6 separate regions of the Homo sapiens genome follow, and regions 1, 2, 3, 4 and 5 are each linked to region 6. A link means that fine-mapping ties the variant in region 6 to the plasma level of a protein whose gene starts in the linked region. Region 6 holds a variant in brackets. A gene starts in each other region. All regions are shown on their forward strands.

Region 1 (5,417 bases), not on the chromosome of region 6:
GCTCCAGCACTTTCGTGGTCATAAAGCAGTCTAATTGTTTAGACCAACGTTTTTAAAAATAAAATAATAAAGAACATACATGTTGTAAGGTTAAGCACTGTTTTATATTAATAAAACTTGTTTCATTTATATACACTCACATTGGAGTTTACAGAGTTGAGGCAGAGAATAAATTAGTTATTGAGGATTGCAGTAAAAGGAAAAAAAAGTTTAAAGAAACTTAGTGTTAAGGAAGTGTGCTTGAAATAAAAAATCTGGAGTGTTGCAAATGGATGAAAGGCACTGGGTAGCTGCCTCATAAAATATATTTTAAGCCAATATAATAAAAAGATCAGAAGACTAAATAATGTTATCCACATTGACTTAAAAAATTAACTGTGGCTTGGAAATACCAAGAAGGAACTAAAAGTCTCAACTGACATGGCATCATCAATATGCATGCTATTCCACAATGAGAGGAGCATGATGCCTTCACTGGGTAGTTTCCACGAAGTCAGGCAATATTTGGACAAGTAGAAATGAGGGTAAATCAGAGTGAAGAAAGAGCAATGGACAATTCTGTAATTACAAAGGCCTTACAAATTATATGAAAGAAAAAAGATAAACATCTTATGGTAAGTGAGGATGTGGGTGGTGAAAAGTAAGATACAGGAGTCATGAGTCAAGCCACTGGAATGATCATGCCATCTCTGAGTGAAATGAAGTTAGAATACCTCTCTTGGCTTCAATTTTTCATAAATGGATGGTTTGAGTATTGAATCTCCAAAGTGAGAAAGGGATCTCGAGAATGCTAGGGCTGGAAGATACTCCTGATTGTTTTTAAGGTTTTGTTATCTTAATCTAGGAAAGTATTATTTTTCCTATTTAACAGATAGATTAAGTTACACTGTTACTCTAGCTAATGAAAACATGTTACATTTCTCACTAGAGGTTAAGAGGAAAGACAGTCTGGTAACATCTGCCTAGTAAGTAATGAAGACTAATATTCAAAATTCAGGGAACAACTCCTATATCTCATATTTAAACAGTATTTAGCACATTTGTTTCTCTGTATGGAGACAAGATTAAGAGGTCAGGTGAGATCCTTTTAAGAAATGTAGAAAAGTGGTGATTGAATTAATAATTACATCATGTTATGCTGTGGTTGGCTTTTAGATTTCCATCTAATCTTAAAAAGAAGAAGAAAAATAACCCCACTACATGTTGCATCAGGCATTTTAAGTAAAACGTGCAATTTAAAAAATATTTTTAAAATGTGTGGAGATAGAACAAAACAATGGAATTGTTATTATTATCAGAAACTTCTACGTAAAAATGTTGGTTAAAGCAATATATAAAGATTGATTCTCGGTACAAATTGCTTGGAAAGTTTAACATGTGCACTAGATTTCAGATATTAAAAGTTAAATTAAAAAAAAGAATCTAATGGCAGCGTGTGACTTTAACCTCATGGATTTTAGCCACAAACGCAAAGAAAAATATATACAATAAAAGAAGCAACAGATTTTCCCACAAGCAGAGATTTTCTAATTAAAATGCTGTCACTTTAATATTTTTTAGCTATAGAATTTGACTGTAAATGTCTTCATTATGTAGTGTAACTTCTATAGCAAGTTATGTTAACGTTTTCAAGAATCGGAAATATTGGTAACTCGATGGGGTTCTTAAAACAGAAATAGTTTCTTTGATGAGTTGGAAAGAGAAGGAAATAAAAGTCTAAGGTAAGCGCCAGTTTCACCCTCAATTCTTAGGCTTCAGAAAAGCCTAATTAGGCAGGGAAAGGAATCTGGGCCTGGCACACCCAAGCTTAGACGTGGCAGGATCCTGAAACAATGTTTTTTTGAACCTTTGAGTCATATGCCACAGGCAAACCATAGCCGCGATATGCAGGTCCTTAAGTCAACAGGTCCTCTAACGAGATGGTGAGTGGTTGGTGCGTGGCAGTTGGATTTCTTCCCGCCACGGAAGAAAAGAACTCTTCTCCATTGATCAGGAAAGTGGGCCCAACTCTGGCCTGGAGAGCGCACCCGGAAAAGTGCAGAGTCGAAACAGAGAGAGAGGGGTGTCCGCGTCCCGGCCACAGAGCCCTTTCCAAACCACTCGGAAACCATTTAAATGGCTCGGCGGCCGCGGTTTGCAGCCTAGAACTGTTTGGGGTCCCCGGCTAGGAAAGTTGCCTGGCAAAGCCATGTCTTTCGCTGTCGCGGGATGTCCTCTCGGGCAGAGAGGCTGGAGGAGACAGGCAACCTGCTAGCCGGAGTGGAAGCGCGCCCGCCTCCCGCCGGGCCCTCCCTCTCAGGGTCCCCACGCTGCGACCCTCCCAAGGGCAAGTCCGGGGCCACCAGGTCTTTGGTCTCCGTCCAGCTCCTCAGGGGCCGCCCCATAGGGACTGGCGGGGGCACCGTGGGCGAGAGGGTGTGACCGGGCTCCCCCCCGAGGCGCCACCTGCCCCTTGGCCCAGGGCGCCCCTTTCGGGATCTCTCCAGGGGCAACCGACACACTGCTCTCGAGACCGTCTCCAACCGGCCACCTGGACCGTAGCCCTGTCCCCAACACGTGAACCCCTGCGGCCGTCCTCCCGCCTGCTCTAACGCAGCCCAGGGGTACCGCGTCTCCCTCCGCCTGCCGCCGGCTTACCTGGCGGGTGGGCAGGGCAGGGTGGCGGGAAGCGGCGGCCGGGCAGGCGCTGGACGTGGGCTAGGCGCCAGGTGCAGGTGGCGGCGGCTGCGACTCCGGTTGCTGTCGCCACAGTTGCGGCTCAGTAGAGCTCCTCCTCCGCCGCCGCCTCCTGCCTTCCCGCTGGGCCTCCCGCGTTGCCTGGAGAGGCAGAACCGAGGCTCGGCTTCCACTTGGAGTCTCCCAGGTGAGCTCCAGCCTGCGACGTCGGCAGGGGCGAGGCCCCACTTCCGCGCCTGCGCGCCAGCCTCCCGCCCCGCCCCAGCCCTACCTGAGCGCTCCAGGTGAGAACCTTGGATCGCGCGCGCAGGGTGGGGGCGCCGTCCGGGCCAAGCCTGGCTGTCGCGCGGCTTCTCTCTGAGTGGTCGGCGAGGCTGCTGCTCCGCGCAAGTTGTGGCTCCCGGCCCATCTACATTGGAGGAATCCTGCACTGACCTGGTGGCAGTGATCACCTTGTAGCCAGAACACAGTCTGCTGGGTCCTTGGGGAACCAGAAGTTCTAGATTTCCCCCACACGGTTCCTCCCTTCCTCCTCGGTTCGCCAAAATGAAGGGGTGCGCTGCCTCCGAGGACCACTTCGGGAGGGCAGCAACTGCTGGCTCATGTGGTTTCTTCGGGCAGGGTTCAGCAGCTTCTGTCACCAGTTAGGTTTCGTGAGCTTCCTTCCCGTGTAGTCTTGATTTCATCACTTGACTCACTTCAGCGCAGCTAGTGGTTTCCGTTTCTGTACGCGGGCGCTCTGGTAGGGGCGCCTCACGTCCAAAGGAGGAGTCTTCTTCCAAAGAAGAGCCTTTGGTATTTGGCAGAGCCTCGCCAATTTGGGGCGCACCTCCCCTTCCTGGGATGCTCTCAGAAGGCAAACCAATTCCCAGAAGAGAGGGAAAAACAGCCACAACAGAGAGAACCTTTGCTGTCCCTGTTTGGAAAGAGATTGGGATTTCCTGGAGAGGGCTTGCTTCTACTGCAGGTTTGTTTAAAAGCTCAACATCTATTCTGGAAGAGAACAACGCAGACTCCAGGAAGATGGTGGGTTTTGCTGTTTTTAAGACAAAAAAAAATTGTTAAACAGTATTTGTTCCATTTATGACACAACTTTCTGTTTCAGCCTTCCTTCTGCTGCTGCAACAAACATTGACACACCCAAAACCAGGACTTAAAATGGCCTTTATACCTTTCTATGAACTCATTTCTTTGGCCCTATCCCAAAGATATCTAGGGATATAAATAGAAAACTAGCTAAAAACTTTTTGGTGTCGTGTTTAATCACATGGTGGTAGGTTTTACTATGAAGTTTAGTTGTGGCCTTCCTCCTACATTTTGACATGCTCTTATGGTGCTTATTCACTGTTTTATTAGTGCTATGCGTGACCTAAAAATAAGGTTTAAAATACAGTTTAGTATAGTATCAACAAGTGTATCTTTAGTATTTGACTACTCTAAGACATTGGTTTTAGCATCCATAGTGCTATTTTATACTAGGACATCTATGAGTTAGGGTTTAAGACTTTAGTAAACTAGGTAGTTCTTTGCTTGTTTTACATGTCATGGTTATTTTGCGAGCACCAAGGAACCTCCATGTATTTGCAACATTTTAATATCAGTACCTACAAGCAATTGCCAAGCTCCCTTTCCCTCCAAAAACAAACAAACAAAAAAATAGTTCAGGAGATACTTGTGTGTATTGATATACTAACTTGGCAGTGTTTTTCCTTAGGTCCAGGTCCAGAACTGAAAATACTAACTACTGAAATTCTCTTCTCCTTCTCCTTCTTCTTCGTTGTGCCACTTTGTCGTTTACCCCTAACCAGAGGTTAATGTTAGTCTTTGGAAAATTTGTAAGGTATCCTAAATGTATAACCAAGAAACCTGTACCCTTTTGCACGCACCACCCATCTCTGAATGAAGAGCCAAAGATTGTCAGAGTTTTGATGTCCCACCAGGCGAAGAGCAACACTTTTCACTGACAATCAGGACAGAGCAGATGGATATAGAATAACAATCTGGAATCCAAGGACTGAGATGCATTGACAGCAAGACTAGTAACGTCAAATAACAACTGAAAAGAGAAGCTAGGGTAGACCTATTAAAAGAGAGAGCCAGCAAACAGGACCAAAATGCTGGATGAGGAGTCTAAAAAGAACAGAAGAAACAAAAAAGATCAGGAGTTACTAAAATTTGACTGTCAGTTTTACAATGGAGACAGACAATTTAAAGAAGGAAGCAGTTTTTCTGAGTGTGGCATTACTTGTGCACGTTGAGTGTCATATATATAGAGAGAGAGAAAGAGAGAGAGTGAGAGAGAGTGAGAGAGAGAGAGAGAGAGATATCTTGGGGATGAGACCTGTCTAAACACAAAATTCATTTATGTTTCATATACACCTTATACACATAGCCTTAAGGTAATTTTATAAAACATTGTAAATAATTTTATGCATGAAACAAAGTTTGTGTAAAGTACTTATGTGTGGAATTTTCAACTTGTGGTGTCATGTTGGTGCTCAAAAAGTTTTGAATTTTGGAACATTTCAGATTTTGGATCTGTGGATTAGGGATGCTCCACCTGTACTATTTTACACAACGTTGCTTGTACTATTTCAAAGCATTCTGAAAGCAAAGTCTTAATATTAATAAAAAATTTTCTATGTGACAATAAAATTAAAATGCTGCAGGCCCAAGAAAAAAATATTATCATATTGAAATATTTAATGCCCCAAATCTAATCAGATGCAGGTTTTTGAAAG
Region 2 (3,016 bases), not on the chromosome of region 6:
TACAGAACCCTGGATGATGTCATCTGGCGCTATCTCTCCAGACATTTCTTGTGCCACTGTCTTCACCATCATCTCTTAATAGACTCCTAAAAAATTCAATAATGAAGAATAACTCAGGAGGACCTTCACATAGGAATATTGTGAAAAGCCTCAAAAACAAACACACAAAAAATCCTTACAGATGTTCTAAATCAAATGACTTGTTTCCAATTTAAAGCTGCTTCTCATTATTCATATTTATTGAAAGTACTTTTGAAATATCTTTTGTTACCATGAGGCTATAGTTTATCATATAATGACTCCAGTTGAAAAACTGCTTATTCTTCTCAGAGAATGAAGTCACTAAACTTCTGTAAGGTTCTAAAGGTCCTTCAGTGCATGGATCCCAGGATTTTCCAGGCCAGTAAAAAAAAATTAATGAGGCCTTGGCACAGGAGGGTCCAAATTTTTATTCTGCCAAATGGAGATGTTAAAACAAAACAAATTCCATGCACATAACATCTACCTCTGCCGTTATTTTTAAGAACACGTTTGCAACAATGAAAACTTGAAGTCCATACAATCAGAGTAAAGATTAACATTCTAAATTAATAATTTTAGTTTTGCATTCTTATTTTTCCAGTTTCATTGAAAACCTGTGAAAACAGCTTCCCAAAGTGACACCAGTGGCCAGACTAGACTTTGATAATCGCTGTTCTAGATAAGAACTATTATATCCATTGAGAGGTTGTTAATTCTTCTTCTGAAAATAGCTATCAAAATACTTTTGCTAGAATAAATAAAGCTATTGAGAAAGAAGAAAAAACAGCCTCCAACACCTGAAACTGCTCTGAGTCCCACAGCTATCTCTCAATATTATTACAAGCCGATCTGACACTCACAGCCAGGTAAGCTCTGTTTTCCTCCTGGACATCAACAATCCCACAGATACCTACGTCGGATAAGATTATTCTGAGACATGACACACCAAGACAAAGCAATGCCACTTGAAGATTTTCTCTAAGAACAGACAAAAACAAGGGCACCTGCAACGCACAAAACACCAAACATCCCCTTCTCGTGCTAAACAGAATGGCTGTTCCTTCTTTACTCAGTCAGAATTGCCCCACCTTCTAACAGCATTCTATCTACAGCAAAGCCCGGTTCCTCAGTCTTACCCCAAATCATGCAACCGAAGTTCAAATTCTGTAATGGGTTTTTTTCTATAACCTACCGTCCGTCGCTCATGGTGTGTGGTCTCCTTTGCCTCAAAGAACACTAAACCCAATTTGTTCAGCTTATGGTGTGTTCCTGGTGGTCTTTCAATGAAGGGCCCTGACAGTATCAAAGTATCAAAGTCTCTCCCAATTCCCATAAAACCAACTACCGTCAAGCAAATTAATTCCCTACCCACAATGGAGCAATTTTATTTTAAGGCCTTTAATCGTGTCCACATACATGTTCTGTGTATTTTCCTATTACAGGAAAAACTGTATATACTATTCTGGATTCTACTTTTATCTGCTGAACATTATATCAATTTTAATGGCTAAATCATATCCCACCATGATTTTAAAGAATTTCTCCTTACAGGTATAAAAGAAGACAATGCACATCTTGCTTCCACTTTCAATAACCTACCTAAACTATTCAAGACCATCACCATCTAGCCTCAGGCCAGATGCGCCAGGTTCCTACTTATCCGATTCTGTTGGCAAAGACAAACGCAGTCTGATTGCTTTATAAAGAAATGAATTATGAAAGAGTACTGGGCGTCAAGAGGCTCGGACGTTACGCATGTTCAGTAAACAACAGTGTAACCTCTGGCTAAATATTTTCTCACTCTAGGTCTACTTCCTCTTCTGTAAAATGAAAGAGTCACGCTCGTCCCTCACTGTCTCTTGCAGTTAGGAAGTCCGTAGCCCTGTGACTTGCTCGTGGGAAAGAGCCACGGGACAGGCGATCCCATGACTTGGGTGCAAAAGGCCACAGGGGGCCCTTTGGGGCCTGCTCTGGGCTGCTCGCACCGCCCAAGCTTGGGACCACTCAGCGTTTCCCACGGCCCTGCAGTATCCTGGGCTGAACTCCTGAACTTCTTCGGGAGAAAGCACCTGACCATCAGGCAGTCTGTCCTTGATTGAGTAATGCACACAGGTCCACCGGAACATTTTATTTAAACACTTCAAAATGCAAGGGCCTGGAACTGGTTATTCAAGTACACTCACTCAAATCTAAGAATGTGCGAATCACACCCAGGTATCCTGCAGAGACTAGGATTTCCTTTAAAGGAGTTCTAGTTGCAGGTAGCACCGAATCTACCGAGGACGGGGTTCGCCAGCCCGCTCTGCACCCACACCCCTGTGCACGAAACCACAGACCCCCGTAAAGAAGCTGCCCAGCACGAGGTGTTCCTTGTACCCGCTCGCGCCGCCACACCTGCGCCTCCATCCGCGCCCGCACCTGCACGCCCCTCTCTGCGCCTCGGCTCAAGCTCACTCACCGGCGGCGCGTGCTGCGCGACGGCACAGCTGACGGCGGCAGCCAGGAGGACTAAGGCGACGCAACTCCGGCCCGGCATCGCTCTAGCAGCCAACGCCACTCCCCGGACTCCAGCAGAGGCAAAGAAGAGCCGGCTGGGCCGGGGGCAGGCCACGCCCCCTCCGCCGCGTGACCCGCGACCTGGGACCGCACCATTCCAGGCAGTAGGGGGAACGCTCGGAGGAGGCGGGACTGGGAGGAGAGGACGGGGCTTTTCAGTGCCACGAAAAGGGTGGCGTAGAGAAAGAGAGAGAGCCTTCCAGGCTACCTGCAGAAGGAGAGTCGCGATCGCCTTTGGCGCGTGGCGTGATCCATCCCCCTCCCCCACCGCGGGCAATAGTCGGACCGAGCCGGAGCCCCGCCCCGTAGGTGGGGCCGGGAGCTTCACCCGTGGCGCCTCGATGGGGCGCCTCTAGCAGGCGGGTGCAGCCTGTCCCGCGTACCCAGGCGTCCTCGGTACCCACGAAACGGATCCAAAGAGTCTCAACACTAATGTAAC
Region 3 (5,350 bases), not on the chromosome of region 6:
GTCCCAAAGCAGACCTCCATCCTGCCGCCACCCAGCCTGCCCATGCTCTGCACCCCAAACCCTCTTCCTGGAGCAGCCGGTGGCTGGTTTGTCCCCTCCCACCTGACCGACCCACCCTAGGTTCCATCCTGTTTCCTCCCAAGGACTTGGCTCCCTCCAGCTTTCCTTCTCCCCGCTCCCTTGTCAGCTATGCCCCCTCTAAGCAGATCTGCACACCCCAAACTTGCCTTTCTCACAACAACAGAGGAAGCCCCCGGCCCCTCCCACTCACTATCACGGTTTTCTGCTTCACTCAATGGTTTGAGACAGTGCCCCGACCCCTACTGCCCCGCTCCTCTTCAGCCCTTTCTCTCTTGCTAAAGGTCACTTCTCCACTGTCATCCGAGCTGACCACTCTCCGGCAGCAGTCAGCACAGCGGTCGCTCCATCCTTCTGGAAGCACCTCCTGCCTGGGCTTCTGGAGTTCCACTTGGCAGTGCAGGGCGTCCCATGGCCTGCCCCCGAGCCCTATCCTTCTATGCCCAACCCAACCCGGCGACAGCAGTCCTGGCCCAGAGGCAGAGCTCGGATGGATGAGCAGTTTCGGTTCTGGCCTCTCCGTCTACTCCTGCCTGAAGCATCTGGACCCGGCCTAACCAGCTCACTGAGGTATGCACAAGCTTCTCCCACGGCCAAACTCAATCCTTCATCCCACCAGCCCCATCTGGGAACGGGCTTATTACTCACACTGTGGGCTAACACAAGTGTCCTGAATACGTTTAATGCAGACAAAGCCAGGCCAGGGTGTGCAGGAGGCTGGGTGTGTCAAACACATTTTCCACTCATGGTGTTTTCAACTTACGAGGGGGTTGTCGGGACATGACCCCACAGTTAAGTCAAGGAGCATCTGTAACTGTGCAAAGTCTACAGCACCATGAAGAAAAATAAATCCGGGAGATAATTCAGGAAGTGGGGTGTCATATGCATAGGGTGGCTGAGGAAGACCCCGCTGAGGTGACATCCATAGGAGGGAGGGAGGGAGCCATGGGACCTCAGGGAGAGAGGAGGTGCCTGGTGGGAGAAGCTACCTCCCTGCTCCACTCTCCGCAGGAGCAGGGGAGCAAGGGCGGACTGGGAGGGAGCCCGATGGTGAAGGCTCTTGAAGGCCAGAGGGTTCTGTCTTTTATCTGAGTGGAATCCTGAGAGGGTTTCAAGCCAAAGAACATGTTCTGATGGGTTGTCACAGGCTCACTGTGGCCTCAGGGGCAGAGGCCAGGAGACCAGTGAGGGCAGTCGGCAGTGGGGCGGTGTGGCTTAGACCTGGAGGAGGCGGTGGGCGGTGCGTGATTTCTGCATCTGCTTCGAAGGTAGAACCGACAAGACTTGTGGGTGGATTATATGAGGGACAGAAAACAGAGGAGTCGGGTACCAGTCCAGGCTTTTGCCTGCATAGCCGGAAGGACAGCCAGGGAGGACTGGGGAAGAAATGGGCTGTCAGGTGACAGTAGTGGAAGGAGCCATCCAGACCTGAAGGTCTGAGGCTGGAGGTGTCAGGTGACCGGGACAGCGGGCGAGTGGGCAGGTGGATGTCAAGCTGAGTTCAGGTGAAGGGTTGGTCCTGGGGAAGCTGACACTCAGAACTCTGAGGAGCAGACAGCTGGGGAGAGGGGAAGGAGTGGCCAGGGAGGTGGAGGCGGGCAGTATGGTGCAGGAGAAGGAAGCATCCTGGGGAGACGTGATCAGGAGAATGCTTCACGGTGGGCCCCAGGTGGCAGTGGAAAGAACAGTGCCGGTGGAGTGGCAGAGGTGGGACTGAGGCTGGAGTGGGTTCAAGGGTAGAGAAGAGGAAGTGGAGGGACTCCAGATACTTCCCTAGGGAGCCCAGAATTGGGGCGGGGTGGGGCCGGGGGCTTTGTGTTCCTTTTTTCCAGGTGGGAGAGCTTCCCTGAGTGGGAAGGGACGGGCTCAGTGAGGGGACAAGACAGTTGATCCTGGGGGAGAGGAGGGAAGACAAATGGAGGACCTGCTGCCTTGGCTGGCAAATGGCCAGGGCCCCGTGGAAGTCCCCTTCTGGTGGCTTCTATTCCTCAGTGAAAGAGGAAGCGAGTGCCTGGGCCTGGGTGCGCTGAGAAGGAGGTTTCAGGAGAAAGTGGGGTGAAGCAGTCATCCGCCCAGAGAGAGTCCCCTGGGGAAATGCGGCAGGGCTGACCCCTGGCCAGGGTCCCACATCCATCTGAAAGCCATCTCCTTTCTACCCGCAGTCCTTCACAGACGCACATCTTGTCACCTGACTCCCTCTCAAAGAGTTCAAGGCTTCCCACAGGCACCTGTTGACCTTTCTATTCTCCCCTCACCCTCACCCCACCCTCAAAGGCTCTTTCACTTCCTCAGCGGGTGCCAGGCCTGGACACTTCCCCTAGACTCTGCCCAGTCCTCTGCCTCTAGCCCCACCCACACCCTGCAGCCCGCCCAAGGTCTCCCAGACCTTCCAGCTCCATCCACATCAAAGGGACCTTTGAACGATCAGAAGTGTGTTCCAGCCCCCGGGGGAGACGCCACGGATGCCACAGCTTCAGCTGGCTGGCTCTGGGGTCCAGACCCTACCCCCAGAGCAAGAACCCCTCATTCACAAGACTGAGCCCATCAGACATCCTGGCACAAAGCCCAGGCTTCCGGGCTCAAATCTCAGCTGTCACTCACACTATGCTCAAGCCTCCCCATCTCTCTGCAAAAAGCCTGCTTCCTCATCTGCAAACTGGAAGCAATCATGGCATTGAGGAGGCGTCAGTGAGATGGAGCACACGCAAACGCATGTCCCCCAGCCTTGGCCCACAGCGGCAGCCACACTGTAGTCTATCCTTTTCACATGGGTGTACAGCAGGCCTGACCCATGAGGACCAAGGCCAGGGAAGAGGCAACAGCACCACAGTGCTCATGGGCCAAACTCCCAGGCCACGCAAGTCCCATCTCCAGGGGAAATCCAGGCTCCTGGACCCTGTGCTGTGACTGGAGAGGGGATAGCAGAGTCCCTTCCAAATGCTGTGGGGTGGGCCTGGGGCTGGTTTGCAGCTGTCCCTTCTCCCGCCTTCTCTCCCAAAGCAGGGTGCAGCAGCCTCGTTGATAGGGAGGGCCTTAGTTTCCCCTTCCTCTTTGCTAAGAGCCTCCCTACCCTACTCCTGCCAAAAGCCTAAGATAGAAACCCACCAGGCTGGAGGTAGTGACCAGGTTAGGCCATGGGCTGTAGCCAACTAGCCTCACCCAATATTCCAAGCCCAGGACAGGCTTTCATCTGTGCTGAGAAGCAGTTTACTTCTGTATCCTCAAATACAGCCTGGGGACTCAGTGATTTTGCATTTCTGTTTCTATCCCAATGGCTGAGGTCACAAGCTTTGGGGGAGAGAGGGCACCTGGCAGCCACTTGTCACTGGGATTCAGTCCTAGTCCTGCCTGTCACCCAAAAGCCCCAGAATGACCCAGCTTGGGTCACCTCAGCAGAGGGCAAAGGCCCGCGCTCCTCGGCCTTAGCACCCCAGCCCAGGCTGACCTGGCCTTGAATCACAGGCCCCTGGAACCGCGGGCTGAGCTGCCTGGGCCTATAAACAGGCAGCCGGGATGGGCTTTCCTGGCCCACAGTCAAAGGGCGGCCACTCACCCGCCATAGCGCTGGTGCTGGCGTGGGCCCAGCAGGAGCCGCAGTATTGGGGGATGTGCTGGTTCCGGGTGATGCTGGCATAGTTGACACCATCCACATTGCGCCAGTCCCAGCTCTTGGGCAGATCCGCTGGGGACAGGTACTCATGAGGCCGGGGGTATGTGCTGAGAAGAGATCATCCCCACCCAGATCGGTGCTGGGGCTCCCGGGGGCCGTGGGCCCAGGAAGCCCTCGGTAGGGCCCTCCCGCCTTTCCCAACACCTGAGGGCATGGGAGTGGGGCCACAATCACCAGAGGTGAGCCAGGTGTGGGCCCACCTCACACTAGGAGGCTCCAGCGCTCTCAGAATGTGAAGGAGGCAGGGCACCCCCGAAAGGAGGGAACCGGGTTGCTCCCCCAGCCATGCCGCGCCGTAAGGGCCACCCCCAGAGGCCGAGGAGGTGGGGCTGGCCTGGCTTTCTGGCCAGGTGGGGCTTGTCCAACCCCACAAACATCAGGGCTCACCCTGGATGTGGAAGAGAAGGAGCGACCCCCAAAACGAAGCGGCTGGATCTGACCTTCCAAGGCCTGTTGGCGACGCAGGGCCCCCAGGAGGCAGAGCGCGCGCCTGGCCCGGGCGATGGGCCTCCCGTCCCCCCAGGGCTGCCTCCCCGCCGGTGCCCACCTGCGCCCCAGCGGAGCCAGCCCGTCCCCCCGCAGAGGCCGGTAGCAGGTCTGTCCCCGGCGGAAGTAGAGGCCGCCCTGCGCCGCGCCCGCCAGCAGCACGAGCAGCAGAAGCGGCCGCCACCCTGGCCCGCGCCTCGCCATGGCCCCGCGCCGGCTCCTGGGTCCCGCTCCGGATCCCGCTCCGAGTCCCAGATCCCGCGCCGGCTCCCGCTCTGGATCCCGCCCCGGCCTCGGCCTCGGCCCAGCACCCGGCCGACCCCGCACTTTGGGCCCCTGCCCCGCCCGGCCCTTAAGGCTGCGGCGGCCAGGCCGGGACACTCCCCCGGGGCGGGGCTGTCCCATCGCTGCTCCTGCCCCGCCCGGTGACCCCTGCCCTCCCCGCCCGGCTCCGCGCCCCGCTCCCTCCCTGGCTCCGGGGCACCTGAACTCGCGGGCCAGGCGCGAGGTCGCCGGGCAGACCCCAGCCTGACCCCGCCGCCGGCCGCCGCCCTGAGCGCGGGACTGTCCGGCTGGACTCATTTGCCGGGGTTCCTGGCTTCGGGGTGGGGGGCCGCAGGCTCATGGGCCCCCTTGGCCCTGCATTCCTGGGGCCCTGAGCCCTGGGGAGAGGCCCCCAGCCTCACATCTGGGCCCAGGCCTCCCCTAGGAAGGGATCCTGGGATGCGGCCACCGCCCCCAAAGAAGGGTCCCCGCGCCTGGCTTTCTAAACCCCTTTTCCCAAAGGCCCAGGCCCTTTCGGGGGGACGGTTCCCTTTTGCAGAGAAGGAAGGAGGGATCCTTCTAGAAAATGCCCCAAAGGAAGATTCCACTTGGCGCAGGCATCAGGAGTTATCCAATGTGACTTCCAAAGACGCCTTGAAAAGGTTTTCTGCTAACGAAACTCTTCTTAGTCAAATGAGGAACCAAAAGCAGAAGTGGCCCCCCAGGACGTGGTTTTGTAACTGGGGGAGGGCTTCTCGCTCCCTGCGGCCCCTCTGTTTGTCATGGCCCTTGGGCCCACACCATGGCCTTCTTCTCTGGTAAGAACAGGGCCCGGCATTCTGGGCTGCGACC
Region 4 (5,417 bases), not on the chromosome of region 6:
TGCCTGTAGAGATGTTGGGGCACTGTAGTTTTTTGCTTCTTAGTGAGTATTAAGAAAAAAAAAAAGAAAGTGGAGTGAGTAGAAAGAAGGATGGTGTTTCTACCCACTAATTTTAATATACTGTACTTTTTAGGATTTCAAACATTTCTTAAGTTTCAAAATGTGTATGCCTTGTTTTATGCTTACTGAAAAACTATTTTGCAACCAGTTACTTCCAGTAAAGTATATTGAAATTGGAAAAAAAAAAAAAAGGAGTGAAAAGAGCTATTTTTATAATTTATCCTTTTCCTAGCTTTAAATGTTTGGACTAAAAACTCCTAAGTTGTTTTGTTAATCCTTACAGTCGTTTTCTCTCACCAGCTCACCAGTTTTTTCTGGCTCCATTTTCTCCCATATTCTAGAGGTTGTGAACTGAGAAACTCCAGGGACCATCTTGTCCTCCACTGGAATGCACTTTGGTTCTTGCAAGCTTTTGAATCATCCAAAAGCTGAAGCAGGACTTCGGCTGCCCTGGCAGGACTTGAAACTGTAACACAAAAGTACCTGAGACAGGTCTCAATCAATTTAGGAAGTTTATTTTGCCAAGGTTAAGGATGGGCCAGTGACACAGCCTCAGGAGGTCTTGACATGTGCCCAAGGTGGTCAGGATACAGCTTGCTTTTATACATTTTAGGGAGACATGATACAGCAATCAATACATGTAAGATTTTTACATTGGTTCGATCTAGACGGGCAGGACAACTTGAAGCTGGGCGGGGGGTGGGTGTTTCCAGATCACAGGAAGATTTAAACATGTCCTGATTGGCAATTGGTTGATTGAAAAAGTTATTATCAATAGAAAGGATGTCTGGGTTATGATAAGGGGTTGTTAGACCCAGATTTTGTCACACAGACGAAGCCTCCACGTAGCAGGCTTTAGAGAAAACAGATCTTAAATGTTTCTTATCAGACTTATGGTCTATGTTGATGTTAATTACGCATGTCCAACCCCCCCATCCCCTTTTTCATGGCCTGAACCAGTCTTTCAGGTTAAATTTTAGAGTGCCCTGACTGGGGAAAGAGTCCATACAGATGGTCGTCCATTCAGATGGTTGTGGGGGGCCTTCAAATTTTATTTTTGGTTTACAAAACAGAAAATGGAAGCACCTTGCTTCCCACTTCAAAGCCCGTTTCATGACACACACTCCCATTAAATTACATGGGATACAAAACAAAGCTTTCTATGCTGGGAAAGAAATACACTCTACAACATCTTTTTTGAGGTTAGTAATTATGGAAAGCATTTTCTTCTGCAAAGGAATTCCACGCCCTATAAATTTAAATTATTAGCTTGTCATCTCCAAGAGATCAGCATCCTCATAAACGGTGAGAGAAGGAACACAGAATACAGGATCCAGCACAGTTTCGGGATTCTGGCTTCTTTGCCAGACTTATCTTTGCTTACTTCTTTGTATAGACTTACTTCTTTGCCAGACTTATCTTTGCTTACTTCTTTGTATAGACTTACTTCTTTGCCAGAAGTATATTCAAAAAAGTTCCGTGGAAGCATCAAATCAACCACCTCTACTTATGATTTCCATGCATCTCTGGAATGCATAAAGCATGATTTCAGAACATGTTCTAATTCTAAGACCCTTCTCTTCCCGGCAGTTTAAAAAAAACAAAAAACAAAACGTCGTATCTTTGAGCATTGGTTTTCAAACATCACAATCACTTTAACATGACCTGAAATGCTTGTGAAAACACAAACTGCTGGGCTCCAGCAGGTTTCTGACTCAACAGGTCTAGGGTGGTGCCTGGGAATTTGCATTTCTAACTAGAGTTCCCAGGTGGTGCTAATGTTCCCAGTTCAGAGACTTCAATTCGAGATCCACTGCAGTATCCATAACTTTTGCTGATTTCCTTCAAATCATGATACTTCAGGGCTCTCTGCATCACCTCTACTGAGGAGCCCTACCCATTAAAGCTGGGGTAGGTTGGCCCAAGAATGGAACCGGGATCGTTGAGATTTCAGCACCCCAGCATTTTTTAGTGACTGAAATAATGAAAATTCTGATCAGGCTCCTGCTTGCTTGCACATTTTAACCACTCGCTTTTTGCCCAATATTCTCCTTGTTTCCACAATATAATTATAAACTGCTGAGGTACTGCTTCCTCGTCAAGAACAAAGAGGTTAACTTCAGGGTCACAAAAATGTTTGCAGAAGGGATGAATACCTCCAAGGGCTTTGCAACCAGCTGCGGATGCCTGGACGTCTAATTGCTCAAAGGTGTTATCTGAGACTGAAGAAACAGACTTTTCCCCTGGATTCTTTGAAAATCCCCCTCTCTTATTCTCTAGCAGAATAAAAACTCCCTGCTTTTTCCTTTTTACACACGGATTTGAGAGATCTTGTTCTCCCTCCTTCTGGCTTTTACTAAATTGAATGTCTTTCTCTATCCCCAAGCACCAGTATGTCAGTGTTTGACATCAACTGCACCACTGATACACGAGTCGGAATTTGAGCTTCTACAAGTACATTCCTTCCTAGGCCAAACACTGACGCTAAGAAATACGAGAACAGATCATCGCTAAACAGCAGCTGAAGGTCAGGCGAACTGACTCGCTGCGGAATCTGCCTTTGCACGTGATCAGTCGGACGTCTACACCCGCAGCCGTCTTCTGTCTCCGCCTCACCCTCAGGCCTGACGGTCCGAGTGGAGCTGCGGGACAGCCCGAACCTCCAGGTCAGCCCCGCGGCCCTCCATGGCGCTGGTGCGCGCACTCGTCTGCTGCCTGCTGACTGCCTGGCACTGCCGCTCCGGCCTCGGGCTGCCCGTGGCGCCCGCAGGCGGCAGGAATCCTCCTCCGGCGATAGGTGAGTTGTCCGCGACCCTTCTCTTCCCAGCCGGCAAAGAGCGCGGAGCGGCGGCGCCTGCGCACAGCAGGAGAAAGTGCGTGGGGGCAGCTGCCCCCGGCAGAGGCTCGGGCTAGCGGGGCCCCTGACGCGTCCGGCGTTGACCACGGCTGGTGGGCGCGGGGAGGGCGACCAAGGGACTACAGCGTTAGGGCGTCCAGCCGGGAGGCCGGGGCTGGGCGGGGGAAATGCCCTCGCCGGTGGGGGCGCTCCAAGGGCGCGTCGGCCGGATTTCGCCAGCCTGGCTTTTGTTTACATCCTGCATCTCAGTTGTTTTGTTCCTTGGGGAAGGAAGGAAAAGCTGCGGGACTCAAGGGAAGAGGAAGCTGGGAGTCCGATGTCCAGCACAGCAAGAGGCCCCTAATCGGTCCTGAATGGAGGGGGACTGCAGTTTCCCCACCAGCTCAGGGAAGTAAATTTCAGCGTGACTCACACTATCTTCTGTCTTGCTCGACCGAGATCAGTGGCTTTTTCTGCCACTCACCCAGCCAGAGCGCGAAAGCACCCTCGGGTAGACTCACCCCTTAGTCTACCGTGGAACTCACGGGGACTTCATTTCACCTGGATGTCCACTAGGTTTCCTGCGGGCGGGACCCATTTTATTCACTCCCAGCACTTAACACAGTGCCCGTTACAGTAGTGATTCTCTTAAGTGTGCCCTGGACCGGTGGCAGCAGCCGCCGCACTTAAAATTGTTAGCATTGCAAATTTCCAGCCCATCCCAGACCTACTGAATCTGAAACGCCGGCGTTGGGCTTCCACAGTATGCTGTTTAACCCACCCTCCGCATGATTCCTTTCGGCTAAGTTTGAGACTCACTGGTCCAGAATAGATACATTTTGGTGGGAGATTGTACAATGCCATCCGAGCCTCCAGTTCCAAAAATCAAGGTGCCCTCACCTCCTCAACTCCCTTTAAAAATAATTGCACTGTTAAGAGGAAAAACAAAATTAGAGAAGTGGGGTTCTGTTTTCTTTTAGGGGAGAGTTGTCCCTGAGACTCGGTAGCAGCACCTAGTGCTGAAACCTCTTTCGCTCCCTCTGTGCTTTCTCAGGACTTGGGAGCGCTCTAGGGCAAATATCTTCTCTTTGAAGGCCAAGTCCTCACGACTCAGCTGTCAGGTCTGAAGCAAAAACTGTAAATCTGGTTTCCGAACTGTGGCAAATGTCAGTCATTACAAGAAATTTCCCCAAAATGTTTATGTATACTGGTTTCTGCTTTTATTACGGCTTAGCTTGTGTTCCTTTAATTATGTGACCGGTTAGGGTTTTGAAATAAAATGTCTCACGTTGCTTGAGGCCACACAATGGCAAATTCACCTGTGTTTTAAAGAGGCCTGAATGAGCGCTTTCTGGGGACTCTGTGAGTCTTCACACCTCCTGTTTGGGAAACTGCAAGGTTGAATCCCCTCCTACTAAAGGGGAAGGAAGAGGGGTTACTGGAGTTCAGTGGTCTGAAGTGTTACTGGAGTCACTGGAGTTCGAAAGTCTGAAGTGTTACTGGAGTTCAAAGGTCTGAAGTGTTCACTCAGCAGTTTCACAATTCTCCTTGTTTGTAATATTTTGCGTATTTTCCACTTGATGTGACAACTCTCCTGCCTCCTCTCAGCCCCACATGCTTGGACTTCCTTTCAGCATCCACCCTGCCTGGCTACTGCTTTCTTGTTTTGTGTTTTTGCGTTTAAATTCCCAGTCTTAGTTTTCTGCCCTGTCAAGTCCTGGTGGTCGGACGACAGAAGTTCTAGGAAGCTTCACCTGTGTGTTTTTGGCTACAGTTCTTTAGATTGAGTAGGCTGGGACTGGCTTGTGTATTGGTACTGTTAAAGCAAACTAAATACGGCCTGAGAAGGACTCCTTACTTCTATATTTGAATCCTTGTGAATGAACTGTAACCTAGCTTAATAGTCAGATGAGACTGAAAACCTAACTTAAGAGTATGCACTGGTAACAATAGCTAAGTTTGGCCAATCCCAGCAGCCATACTTCAACCATTCATATACTGCTGAGTGTTCAAACTATGTTCAAATAAGGCATAAGGCGAGCTGAATTATGTCTGAACTATGGTTCATTGGATTCTTGAGAAGTTATAAAATATTTTGGATTAAAAGATTTTCTGGTATAATTTTGAGAGTTTTTCTAGATTTGCTGAACACACACACATATTTTTGGAAGTCTTTTTAAAAATTTATTTTATTATTTTATTTTATTTTTTATTTTGAGACAGTCTCGCCCTGTCACCCAGGCTGGACTGCAGTGGCGCAATCTCGGCTCACTGCAAACTCCGCCTCCCGGGTTCACGCCATTCTCCTGCCTCAGCCTCCCGAGTAGCTGGGACTACAGGCGCCCGCCACCATGCCTGGCTAATTTTTTGTACTTTTAGTAGAGACGGGGTTTCACCGTGTTAGCCAGGATGGTCTCAATTTCCTGACCTCGTGATCTGCCCATCTCAGCCTCCCAAAGTGCTGGGATTACAGGCATGAGCCACCGCGCCCGACTTGGAAATCTTTTTAAAGATAGTCTGC
Region 5 (5,098 bases), not on the chromosome of region 6:
ACGGAACTCCTCCAGGACCAGGGCACCTTCAGATTCTCGAGCGGAGATCTGATCCTCCTCGCCTAGCGGTCCGGGCTCAGGGTCGGGGGCGTAAGTCACTTGGCGCTGACCAGCGGAGTCGGGCCGGGGGGAAGGCGCTAGAGGGAGCCCAGGAGGAGCCGGTACCGGGCTGCGGGCGCTTCCGCCTCGGCCCCGCCCCGTGACCTGTGACCCTTGCGGGGCGGGGCCGGGGGCGGGGCCGGGGGCGGGGCCGGGGGCGGGCCGGGGCGAGGGGCGTTGCTGCGCGTGCTCGCTCCGAGGCCGCCGTGTGCGCCTGAGGCTGTTGGCTGCGGTCTTGAAACGGGCTCTGGGAGCTTCCTCTGCGCGGTCGGCCCTGGCTGAGGCGTCCCGGGCTGCGCGCGGGGCTCGGCGCTGCGCAGTGTCCGGTGTCCTCTCGGTCCGGAGCTTCTCCAGAGGAGGAGCGGCTCGTGCGCCCCCAGACCTCCGGTACTGGGAGACTCGGGCCCTCCTGTAAGAGACCTGAGCGCGGAGCGTTATGGGCACCCGGTGAATGAGCAAATGGCAGGGAAAACCGTGCAGCCCCATGGACTGCGGGCTCTTCCTTCACGACTAGCAAAAGCTTTGACACCCTTTCTCCTGCGTACGCGTGTCTGTGTGCGTGTAAGCTGTGGCTGGGTGCGGGGGGCTGTGTACGTGTCTGTGTGTGGTGTGTGTGGAGTGTTTGAGGCAGGTGTGTGGTGTTTCAGGTGTGTGTGCATGTGTGGTGTTTGAGGTGTGTGTGTGTGTTTTTGTAGTGTTTGAGGGATATGTGTGTGTGGTGTTTGAGGTGGGTGTGTGGTGTTTGAGGGGTGTGTGTGTGTGGTTGAGGGGTGTGTTTGGTGTTTGAGGGGTGTGTGTGGTTGAGGTGTATGGTGGTTGAGGTGTGTGTAGTGTTTGAGGCACGTATGTGTGTGGTGTTGGGTGTGTGTGGTGTTAGAGGTGTGGCGTATGTGTGTTTGCGGTGGTTGAGGTGTGTGTGTGTGTCTGGTGTTTAGGGTGTGTCTGTTGTGTGCGTGTGGTGGTGGAGGCGTGGTGTGGTGTGGAATGTGTGTCTGGGGTCCAGTCTGGCCTGTTGCAGGGTTACGCTGCTGGGGAAAAACTCATCTGAGGACAACGTGATTGGGTCCTCGCTCCCTCGTTGGGCAGCCTTGGACTTAACCTTTTTGATCTTGAAGGAAAACACAATATGTCACCTCCAAATATATTTCCTTGACACGGTTCAAGACAGTTACTCAGAAGGACTGGAAATAGAAGAATAGCTGAAAAGCTGTCTTTTGTGGGGGAGATTTGCATCTGTGGAGAGAATCTACACTGATGCGGCCAGGCCTCCTCTGAGGCCCTCCTTGCCTGATCTGGGAAGAGTAACAGTCTGACGCCTTTAAAGGCCTGAAGGGAACATTCACCATCTGTTCTCTCTCAGGGCTGCTACCTGTGAGGTTTCATCTGTAGAACAAGGCCACCTTTGCTAGCCAGGCCTCCTCTGCTCTCCCTCCTGTAACCGGTCTTGCCACTGGTCACCTGATTTTCCACCATAAACTGTGGCCATACTTTGAGCCCATGTTCTTTCTGTAACCTCAAGATGGTATATAAGCTTCCGAACCCCATTGGGAGGTTGGGGTCATCACTCTGGTTCTCCCTGTGTGCATGAATAAATCTGTATGCCTTTTTTCTTACTAACCTGGCTTTTGTCAGTTGATTTTCTGTGAACTCAGAATGCAGAAAAGTTTTTCTCTAGGCTCCTACAGTTTTGGTGCAGTCGGTAGGATAACTAAAGTCACTCTCCTGGGAGCCTCCGTCAGGGGAACCCAGGAGCCGACAAGCTGGCAGAAAGAAGGGTAAGAAGGTCTTAGCAGCCAGGCTCCCGGCCTCTCTGGAATCTTGTCAAGCCGACGGTAAAAATGTCTGTTTACCTTGTTTTCCTCTTCAAAGTTTTAATGAGAGAAATGTATTTATGTGATTAGTTTTGTATTCATATTGTTTGATTGCTTTTTTTCCCCAGAAATAGTCGTCTTTCATTCTTGTCTTTCTGTGTTTTTCTGTCATAAAGAGGGTAGAACACAGGCCTAAAACCCCTGTAAACCCCGTCTTGGGGCCGTCCTGCAGGCTAGTCAGTTTTGCAGCTCTGATCGGATGCGTCTAGTTAGACAGACTTTGCTGTGGGTCCCTGAACTGAAAACTGGATGAGATTCTCCTCTCTTTTGATGTCCTTGAAAGCTTGAGTTGTGAGCGAGTGGGAATGATGCAGGCCAGGCAGACCCCAGAGTGGAGCTTAGCCAGTGAGGGTTTTGGCTTTGCCCAGGAAAGAATTCAAAGACAAGCCAGAGGTAGAAGAAAACAGCTTTATTGAACAGGTGGCGTTAGAGCTCTGTGACTGCTCCTGCAGAGCAGGGCCACCCCGTAGGCTGAGAGTAGCAGCTCAGGGCAGTTTTGCAGTCACATTTATACGCACTTTTGATTGCATGTAGATTAAAGGATGGTTTATGCAGAAGTTTCTAGGGAAGGAGTAGTCATCATTGGGTCATTGCCATGGAAAGGGGTGGCAACTCCTGGGTGTTGCCATGGCAATGGTAAACTGACATGGCACAGTGGCGGGCATATCTGACTGAAAGCTGCTATTGCCCCAACCCTGTTTTAGCCAATCCTCAACTGGGTCAACTAAGTCCCACCTCCTACCTCAGGAGCACTCTCTTGGCCTCTGCCAATCCGAGGTAGTGACTCGCAGGTCACATTTTGTGGTCAGTCTGAAAATGGTTGGGAACCCAAGACATTTAATATTTTAAGCAGCACCGTTTTTGTTCTGAATGTGTCAAGCTTTTAGTTTGTCTTAAGAAGTCCCTGCCAGGCGAGCTGTCAGAGCCCCGGCACTGGGAGTGGTGGTCAACTTGCGGGTTGGTAAAAAGAGTTTACCGACAATAGGTTTGAAAAAGGAAAGTTTGGCCGGGCATAGTGGCTCATGCTTGTACTCTCAGCACTTTGGAAGTCCAAGGTGGGTGGATCACCTGAGGTCAGGAGTTTGAGACCAGCCTGGCCAACATGGAGAAACCCTGTCTCTACTGAAAGTATAAAACTTAGCCAGGTGTGGTGGTGCGTGGCTGTAATCCCAGCTACTTGGAAGGCTGAGGCAGGAGAATTGCTTGAACCTGGGAGGCGGAGGTTGCAGTGAGCTGAGACAGAGCAAGACTGTCTCAAAAAAAAAAAGAAAAAAGAAAGTTTGCCGGGCACGGTGGCTCACGCCTGTAATCCCAGCACTTTGGGATGCTGAGGCAGGTGGATCACCTGAGGGCAGGAGTTCAAGACCAGCCTGGCCAACATGATGAAACCCCATCTCTACTAAAAATACAAAAAATTAGCTGGGCATGGTGTCGGGAGCCTGTATTCCCAGCTACTTGGGAGGCTGAGGCAGGAGAATCGCTTGAACCTGGGAGATGGAGGTTGTGGTGAGCTGAGATCATACCATTGCACTCCAGCCTGGGCAACAAGAGTGAAACTCCATCTCAAAAAAAAAAAAAAGAAAAAAAAAGAAAAGAAAGAAAGTTTATTAGAATGCTGCAGAAGAGTGCAATGAGGTGCCTCAGCAAGAGGACTGAGTACGCCGGGTGGATTTCTCCTTAAGGGCATTTATAGGCCTTAAAGTGGAGGCTTAACAGTAATTTGGACCATATTAGCCACGTAAGTCATGATAAATGATTACATTTATAGTAATTTTGGTGCCTTAATGTCAGCGACGGTTGTACAGTGAGTTTCGTCATGGTATTCTGGAGACACATAGAAATTATAGTTACTTACACGTTTTTTGGGGGAAGAAATCTGGAACCAGATGCCTGCTTTAGATAATAGGGAGGTTTAGTTACTTTTGATTTTCCCCAGATAAGGAGTTTTGCCTCGGAGGGCCTGTTTGATGTTTGATGGTCGCCAGGTGGTTTTTGCTCTCCTCAGGCCCATCCATAAGGGGCTTTTGTCATCCCAATGTTTGTTGCCTGGTCAGTCCTCAGAAAGCCCAATCCCAACAGGCCTACCCTGTGTTACAGGTTAATGGGTCTGTGACTGGCAGCCCCTGACAGATTGTGTGTTACTGGAGGCACTGTATGTACAAACACGTTCCTTAACTGTCTCTGGGAACAAGAGTCTTTTGCTGTCTTTGCCTATTCCTGGGAGTGAATTTTGGGGGCATCATTGGAACCTCCTCTTCTATGCCCTCTCTAAACCTGGAAAATAATCTTTTGGGCTTTCCATGAAGGGGCTTCTTGGATTGAGTTGCTATTGGAATAAATACATCATTGGAAATTCTGATTGTCAATAGCCAAAAGATGAATCCTTTACATTAGAAAGATCCCTAAATTAAAAAAAAAAAAAGATTTTAGAGGTCTCTCATTCTAAACAATTGCCTTATTTGTATTTGTGGGGAGATTAAAGGAAAGACACATAATAATGTTGTGGCTAGCCTTAGAAATCCTCTTCACAAAATTAAAGAGCAAAAATCTGACCTGTAACAAGTTAAAATCCTTTGTGCGCGCAAACCATTGCTTTGGATCCCTGCAGGATTCACAATGAAGACTGCTGCATCTTGGAAACTACTTAAAATTCTGTACTTTCACTACCATGGCCTGGGTTCAATTCCCAATAGAGGAACCAGTCCCTTTTGGTTTGATATTTGTGTGACTTTTGAATTCTTTCTTTTGTTTTTTTTTTGGAGACGGAGTCTTGCTCTGTCGCCCAGGCTGGAGTGCAGTGGCATGATCTTGGCTCACTGCACCCTCTGCCTCCTGGGTTTAAGCAATTCTCCTGCCTCAGCCTCTGGAGTAGCTGGGATTACAGGTGTGAGCCACCACGCCCGGCTGATTTTTTTGTGTGTGTGTATTTTTAGTAGAGATGGGGTTTCACCATGTTGGCCAGGCTGGTCTCGAACTCCTGACCTCGTGATCCTCCCGCCTTGGCCTCCCAGAGTGCTGGGATTACAGGTGTGAGCCACCACGCCCAGCTAATTTTCTTTTTTTTTCTTTTTTTTTTTTGTATTTTTAGTAGACATGGGGTTTCACCGTGTTGGCCAGGCTGGTCTCGA
Region 6 (4,820 bases):
CAAGCAGGCTCCGCCGGCGACCGCTGACGGGCGCTGGGCTCGCGGCGCTGCAAGGCGGCGAGGCCCGGGCCTGGCGCCGCCTGCGCAGCCTTGGTCGCGGCGTGCCGGCGCTGCAGCGCGGCAGGGGGCGGGGCCGGCCGCCCGGAGGCCCAAGTGGCGGGGACGCCTCCCTGCCGGGTCAGGTTCTCAGAGCGGGTCTCCGGCGGCGGCGACGGGGGCCGGGCCGCGCGTGACCCGCCGCAGTCACGCCGTTCTTAATCACTAGTAGCTGGTGCTCCAGGCTGGCGGCGCTCACCTTTCTCCTAGCCGGGTGACCCAGGGGATTTATTTTATGTTGGCTTTCTCTGAAATGCCAAAGCCACCCGATTATTCAGAGCTGAGTGACTCTTTAACGCTTGCCGTGGGAACAGGAAGATTTTCGGGACCATTGTAAGTGCTTAGGAGTTACTGTCTTAACTTGGGGGCTTGACTTGTAGCACCCCGCGTTCACGTCTGAAGCAGTACTGTTATGCCAGAAAGTGTTTCACCTGTCAAAGTGAAATGTGCTGTGAGAAACTAGTTTAATTCCAGTTTCTGGAGGGCGGGTATTATGGACCTGTTTAAGTAGGATGCAGTGATTTATTCTGAGGGATTCCCGTTAAAAAGCAGAACTCAGTATATACTGAAATCAATGGTTTTTTGTTTTTTTGTGTGTGTTGTTTTACTTGATTGTAAGTATTACACAAAACAACCTGTAAGTTTTACATTTCTTAATAGGTGTTTAATTTAATTATTTTAAATCTTAAGTGTGTTAGTGGGATATTTTAGAATTCTTTTTTTTTTTTTTTAATTAGACAGAGTCTCGCTCTGTCGCCCAGGCTGGAGTGCAGTGGCGTGATCTCGGCTCTCTGCAAGCTCTGCCTCCTGGGTTCACGCCATTCTCCTGCCTCAGCCTCCCGAGTAGCTGGGACTACAGGTGCCCGCCACCACGCCCGGCTATTTTTTTTGTATTTTTAGTAGAGACGGGATTTCACCATGTTAGCCAGGATGGTCTCTATCACCTGACCTCGTGATCCACCCGCCTCAGCCTCCCAAAGTGCTGGGATTACAGGCGCGAGCCACCGCGCCCGGCCTAGAATTCTTGGAGATAAAGCAAGTACATTTGGAGTAGTTGCCGTGACAGCATTACTAGACCCTAATTGTATTTTCTTTTTTAATTTGAAGGCACAGAGCATGGAGAATGATGAACTTCCGTCAGCGGATGGGATGGATTGGAGTGGGATTGTATCTGTTAGCCAGTGCAGCAGCATTTTACTATGTTTTTGAAATCAGTGAGACTTACAACAGGCTGGCCTTGGAACACATTCAACAGCACCCTGAGGAGCCCCTTGAAGGAACCACATGGACACACTCCTTGAAAGCTCAATTACTCTCCTTGCCTTTTTGGGTGTGGACAGTTATTTTTCTGGTACCTTACTTACAGATGTTTTTGTTCCTATACTCTTGTACAAGAGCTGATCCCAAAACAGTGGGCTACTGTATCATCCCTATATGCTTGGCAGTTATTTGCAATCGCCACCAGGCATTTGTCAA[G/T]GCTTCTAATCAGATCAGCAGACTACAACTGATTGACACGTAAAATCAGTCACCGTTTTTTCCCTACGATTACAAAACTGCCAGTCCTATATGGAGTCTGATCACAAGACTGCAGTTTCTTCACAGATCTCAGGAAGTTGTCGTGGGGCAGAGGCTTTTTAAAAACATGTGATTAGGGAGCTATCTTTATCTGAATAATAACGAATTTTTAGGTAAAACCTGAGATAGAGTACTACAAAATCATGTTGATGACTTCAGATTTTGGAAGTTAAATCATGTCTGTTATTTGCATTCTTTAGAAACTTGACTAAGTACCTGAATTCATATTTCTATTCTACTGTGCAACATAGTGATGATTCAGAAATTTTTCCTTTGGGGAAAAAAATGAATATGAACATTTCCATTGTGTTAAGTGTAAAAAGGTCCAGACATGATCATAAAATTTAAATTTTATACAATTACTTGGCTTGCTTTAAAATTCTTCACACTTAAAACACCGATTCATTCTATTGCAGCTAAGCCAGCTGTCTAGACTTGCTGTCAGCTTATGAGGCATTGCTAAAAAATTATTGAGGAAATGGCTGTCTTGATAAGCAGAATTTGTTCTTCCTCTTGGTAATGGCTAAATTATTATTAATGCTTTTAATGGTTTTATTTTTTATATTTTTCTTTTTTGTGGAGAATGGGGTCTCGCTATGTTGCCCAGGCAGGTCTCGAACTCCTGGGCTCAAGCTTTCCTCCTCTCTCTGGCTCCCTAAGTGCTAGGATTACAGGTGTGAGCTACCATGCCCAGCTATTTTTAATTAAAAAAATTTTTTTTTTCCATGACTTGTGACACAGTCTCAGAAGGCCCTGAGAACGTACGCTCCAATGCTACTGATTTAGAAAACTATCTGGGAAGAAACTAAGTGTTAAATGTTGAAAGGCTAGAAATAACTTACAAATAGAAGATGGAAACAATGTGTTCAATGAAAATCTAGCAGGTTATTTATTATTTATTTAAATTATTATTATTATTTTTGAGACGGAGCCTTGCTTTGTCACCCAGGATGGAGTGCAGTGGTGCAGTCTTGGCTCACTGGAACCTTCGGCTCACTGCAACCTCCACCTCTCGGGTTTAAGCGATTCTCTTGCCTCAGCCTCCTGAGTAGCTGGGATTACAGGTGACCACCACCATGCCTGGCTGATTTTTGTTATTTTAGTAGAGACAGGGTTGCAGCATGTTGGCCAGGCTGGTCTCAAACTCCTCACCTAACTAAGGTAATCCACTTGCGTCAGCCTCCCAAAGGCCTGGGATTACAGGCATGAGCCACCATGCCTAGCTGTATTTATTTATGTTATTTATTTTGAGATGGAGTCTTGCTCTGTAGCCCAGACTGGTGTGCAGAAGTGCGATCTCAGCTCACTGCAACCTCCACCTCCCAGGTTCATGCTATTCTCCTGCCTCAGACTCCCGAGTAGCTGGGATTACAGGCACCCACCACCATGCCTGGCTAATTTTTGTATTTTTAGTAGAGACGGGGTTTCACCATGTTGTCCAGGCTGGTCCCGAACTCCTGACCTCAAGTGATACACCTCAGCCTCCCAAAGTACTAGGATAACAGGCATGAGCCACCATGGCCAGCCTATAGCAGGTAATTTAGTCCAGTCCTTATCAGATGCATGAGACCCCTCTAAAAGATGCTATCAAGTCATAATCTTTCTGATTTTCTTTTCTGGCCCAAGGTCAGGTCATCAGGCAGTAGGTTAATTACATGAAGATGTGTTCCTGTACCTTCTCCTTTGCATTTGTACTACCTCACATCTGGTACTAATACAAATAACTAAAACATGGACACAGTAGCATTTCTTTTCTGCATGAGATCAAGATATATTTTTATACAGTTATGTCATTAATACTGGAAAACATTTTATGCTTTTAATAATCAACACTTTTTGATGCTTATTCTGTTGGGCCCTATTCTAAGAGCTTTATGGAAATTAACTAATGTAATCCTCCCAACAACCCTATAAGATGGGTATTATTATCCAGATTTCACAGATAAGGAAACTGAGGCAGAGAAGTCAAGTAACTTGCCAAAGGTCACAGCGAGTAGCAGAGCCAGGGTTATAACCAGGCATTCTAACGCCATCGTTACTAACCACAGAGGCATAGCGCTTCTCACAAATGACAAATGTTTTAGCACTGGGTACTCTTTGCCCAGTCATGCCAAAGAATGGAAATGGCAATAGTATTGACAAGTTTTTCTCTATTTGTCTACTAGAAATCTGAAAGTTTCCTAGCAACCTCATCTTTCCACTACATCTGACTGAACCCGAAAGGAAGGCTGAGTATTCCATAGCAAGCTGTTACTTAAAAGATAAAGCAGGTACCTTTGTGATGTAAAAGTAGCAGATCAGATCCTTCAGATCAATTAGTCTCATTTATCTCACTGCCTCCAAAGGTCTAGTTACTGAAATGATATATCTTTTGATATAACACGTGGAATCCTCAAAGTAAGCAGCAGTTTGAAATACTTGTTTTTGTGAGGGTCAGATGACCAAATCACTTGCATCTTTTAAGTATTCAGTATGCATGTTACAGACATTGTTTATGAGTGATTTACATTTATTCTTCACAACAGTCCTGGGAGGCAGGTATTATACTGCTACTAGTGTCATTTTACAGAAGAAACCTGAAACACGTAGGAATAACTTGTCCATAGTCACATAGCCAGTATGTGAAAGAGCCGATTTGAACCTAGGATGTTGGCTTCAGATCTCCAGCTTTTTATCATTCTATACTGCTTCTCAAAAAGGAGAGTAATTTGAGGGAAATCATTGAGAGTTGCCAGTTTTATTAGTCTTGAGGCAGTGATTTAAGAAAATTATTTCAGTTTTGTTTTGTTTTATAAATGCTTTATGTAGGCTGGGAGTGGTGGCATCTGTAATCCTAGCACTTTGGGAGGCAGAGATGGGAGGATAGCCTGAGCCCAGGAGTTCATGACCAGCCTGGGCAACATGGCGAGACCCCATTTCTATTAAAAAGGGGTGGCTCATGCTACTCCCAGCACTTTGGGAGTCTGAGGTGGGCAGATCACTTGAAGCCAGGAGTTCAAGACCAGCCTGGCCAACGTGGTGAAACCCTGTCTCTACTAAAAATAGAAAAATTAGCCACGGCTGGTGGTGCATGCCTGTAATCCCAGCTACTCAGGAGGCTGAGGGAGGAGAATCGCTTGAACCCAGGAGGGAGAGTGGCAGTGAGCCAA

Which allele goes with the higher level. Positions count from the first base shown, and alleles are read on the strand shown. Strength reflects both the effect of a copy and how common the allele is.
For the plasma level of the protein whose gene starts at base 2,870 in region 1, G is the low allele of the variant in region 6 and T is the other (weak association).
With allele T in place of G in region 6, the plasma level of the protein whose gene starts at base 2,606 in region 2 is higher (weak association).
As copies of T replace G in region 6, the plasma level of the protein whose gene starts at base 4,564 in region 3 goes up (weak association).
In carriers of allele T in region 6, the plasma level of the protein whose gene starts at base 2,657 in region 4 tends to be higher than with G alone (moderate association).
For the plasma level of the protein whose gene starts at base 188 in region 5, G is the low allele of the variant in region 6 and T is the other (weak association).

The links. PIP is the posterior inclusion probability: the model's chance that the variant is causal. The UK Biobank Pharma Proteomics Project read protein levels with antibody pairs (Olink). The fine-mapping took linkage between variants from a reference panel, not from the people measured, so its PIPs are less certain.
Region 1: GALNT3 starts here. The variant in region 6 is fine-mapped to the plasma level of the GALNT3 protein (UK Biobank, PIP above 0.99).
Region 2: ASAH1 starts here. The variant in region 6 is fine-mapped to the plasma level of the ASAH1 protein (UK Biobank, PIP 0.95).
Region 3: CTSZ starts here. The variant in region 6 is fine-mapped to the plasma level of the CTSZ protein (UK Biobank, PIP above 0.99).
Region 4: SMPDL3A starts here. The variant in region 6 is fine-mapped to the plasma level of the SMPDL3A protein (UK Biobank, PIP above 0.99).
Region 5: it holds the start of ARSA, and the variant in region 6 is fine-mapped to the plasma level of the ARSA protein (UK Biobank, PIP above 0.99).

Annotation. Positions count from the first base shown.
Region 1 is chr2:165,791,378-165,796,794 of GRCh38, forward strand. GALNT3 (polypeptide N-acetylgalactosaminyltransferase 3) reads right to left here and starts at 2,870. Exons shown (of 11, transcript NM_004482.4): 1 at 2,638-2,870. LOC124906086 reads left to right here and starts at 2,209. Exons shown (of 6, transcript XM_047446887.1): 1 at 2,209-2,415; 2 at 2,542-2,960; 3 at 3,423-3,702. The coding sequence starts at 2,209. RefSeq lists enhancers at 1,620-2,526, 2,527-3,432 and silencers at 2,503-2,592, 2,663-2,812.
Region 2 is chr8:18,081,502-18,084,517 of GRCh38, forward strand. ASAH1 (N-acylsphingosine amidohydrolase 1) reads right to left here and starts at 2,606. Exons shown (of 14, transcript NM_177924.5): 1 at 2,480-2,606. The coding sequence starts at 2,557. RefSeq lists enhancers at 2,063-2,172, 2,973-3,016 and a silencer at 2,523-2,722.
Region 3 is chr20:59,002,691-59,008,040 of GRCh38, forward strand. It overlaps CTSZ (cathepsin Z), which reads right to left and starts at 4,564. Exons shown (of 6, transcript NM_001336.4): 1 at 4,296-4,564; 2 at 3,632-3,795. The coding sequence starts at 4,438. RefSeq lists enhancers at 1,998-2,047, 2,058-2,117, 2,358-2,667, 3,816-4,627, 5,308-5,350 and a silencer at 4,248-4,847.
Region 4 is chr6:122,786,602-122,792,018 of GRCh38, forward strand. SMPDL3A (sphingomyelin phosphodiesterase acid like 3A) reads left to right here and starts at 2,657. Exons shown (of 8, transcript NM_006714.5): 1 at 2,657-2,857. The coding sequence starts at 2,746. RefSeq lists enhancers at 2,467-2,968, 2,969-3,468, 4,572-4,741, silencers at 2,683-2,977, 4,083-4,377 and a cis regulatory region at 4,657.
Region 5 is chr22:50,627,965-50,633,062 of GRCh38, forward strand. ARSA (arylsulfatase A) reads right to left here and starts at 188. Exons shown (of 8, transcript NM_000487.6): 1 at 1-188. It overlaps LOC124905149 (a long non-coding RNA gene), which reads left to right and starts at 3,530. Exons shown (of 2, transcript XR_007068161.1): 1 at 3,530-5,098. RefSeq lists a silencer at 83-272.
Region 6 is chr14:93,185,057-93,189,876 of GRCh38, forward strand. It overlaps LYSET (lysosomal enzyme trafficking factor), which reads left to right and starts at 261. Exons shown (of 2, transcript NM_001098621.4): 1 at 261-429; 2 at 1,204-3,407. The coding sequence starts at 350. The coding sequence ends at 1,615. The variant G/T (reference allele first, on the strand shown) is at 1,573.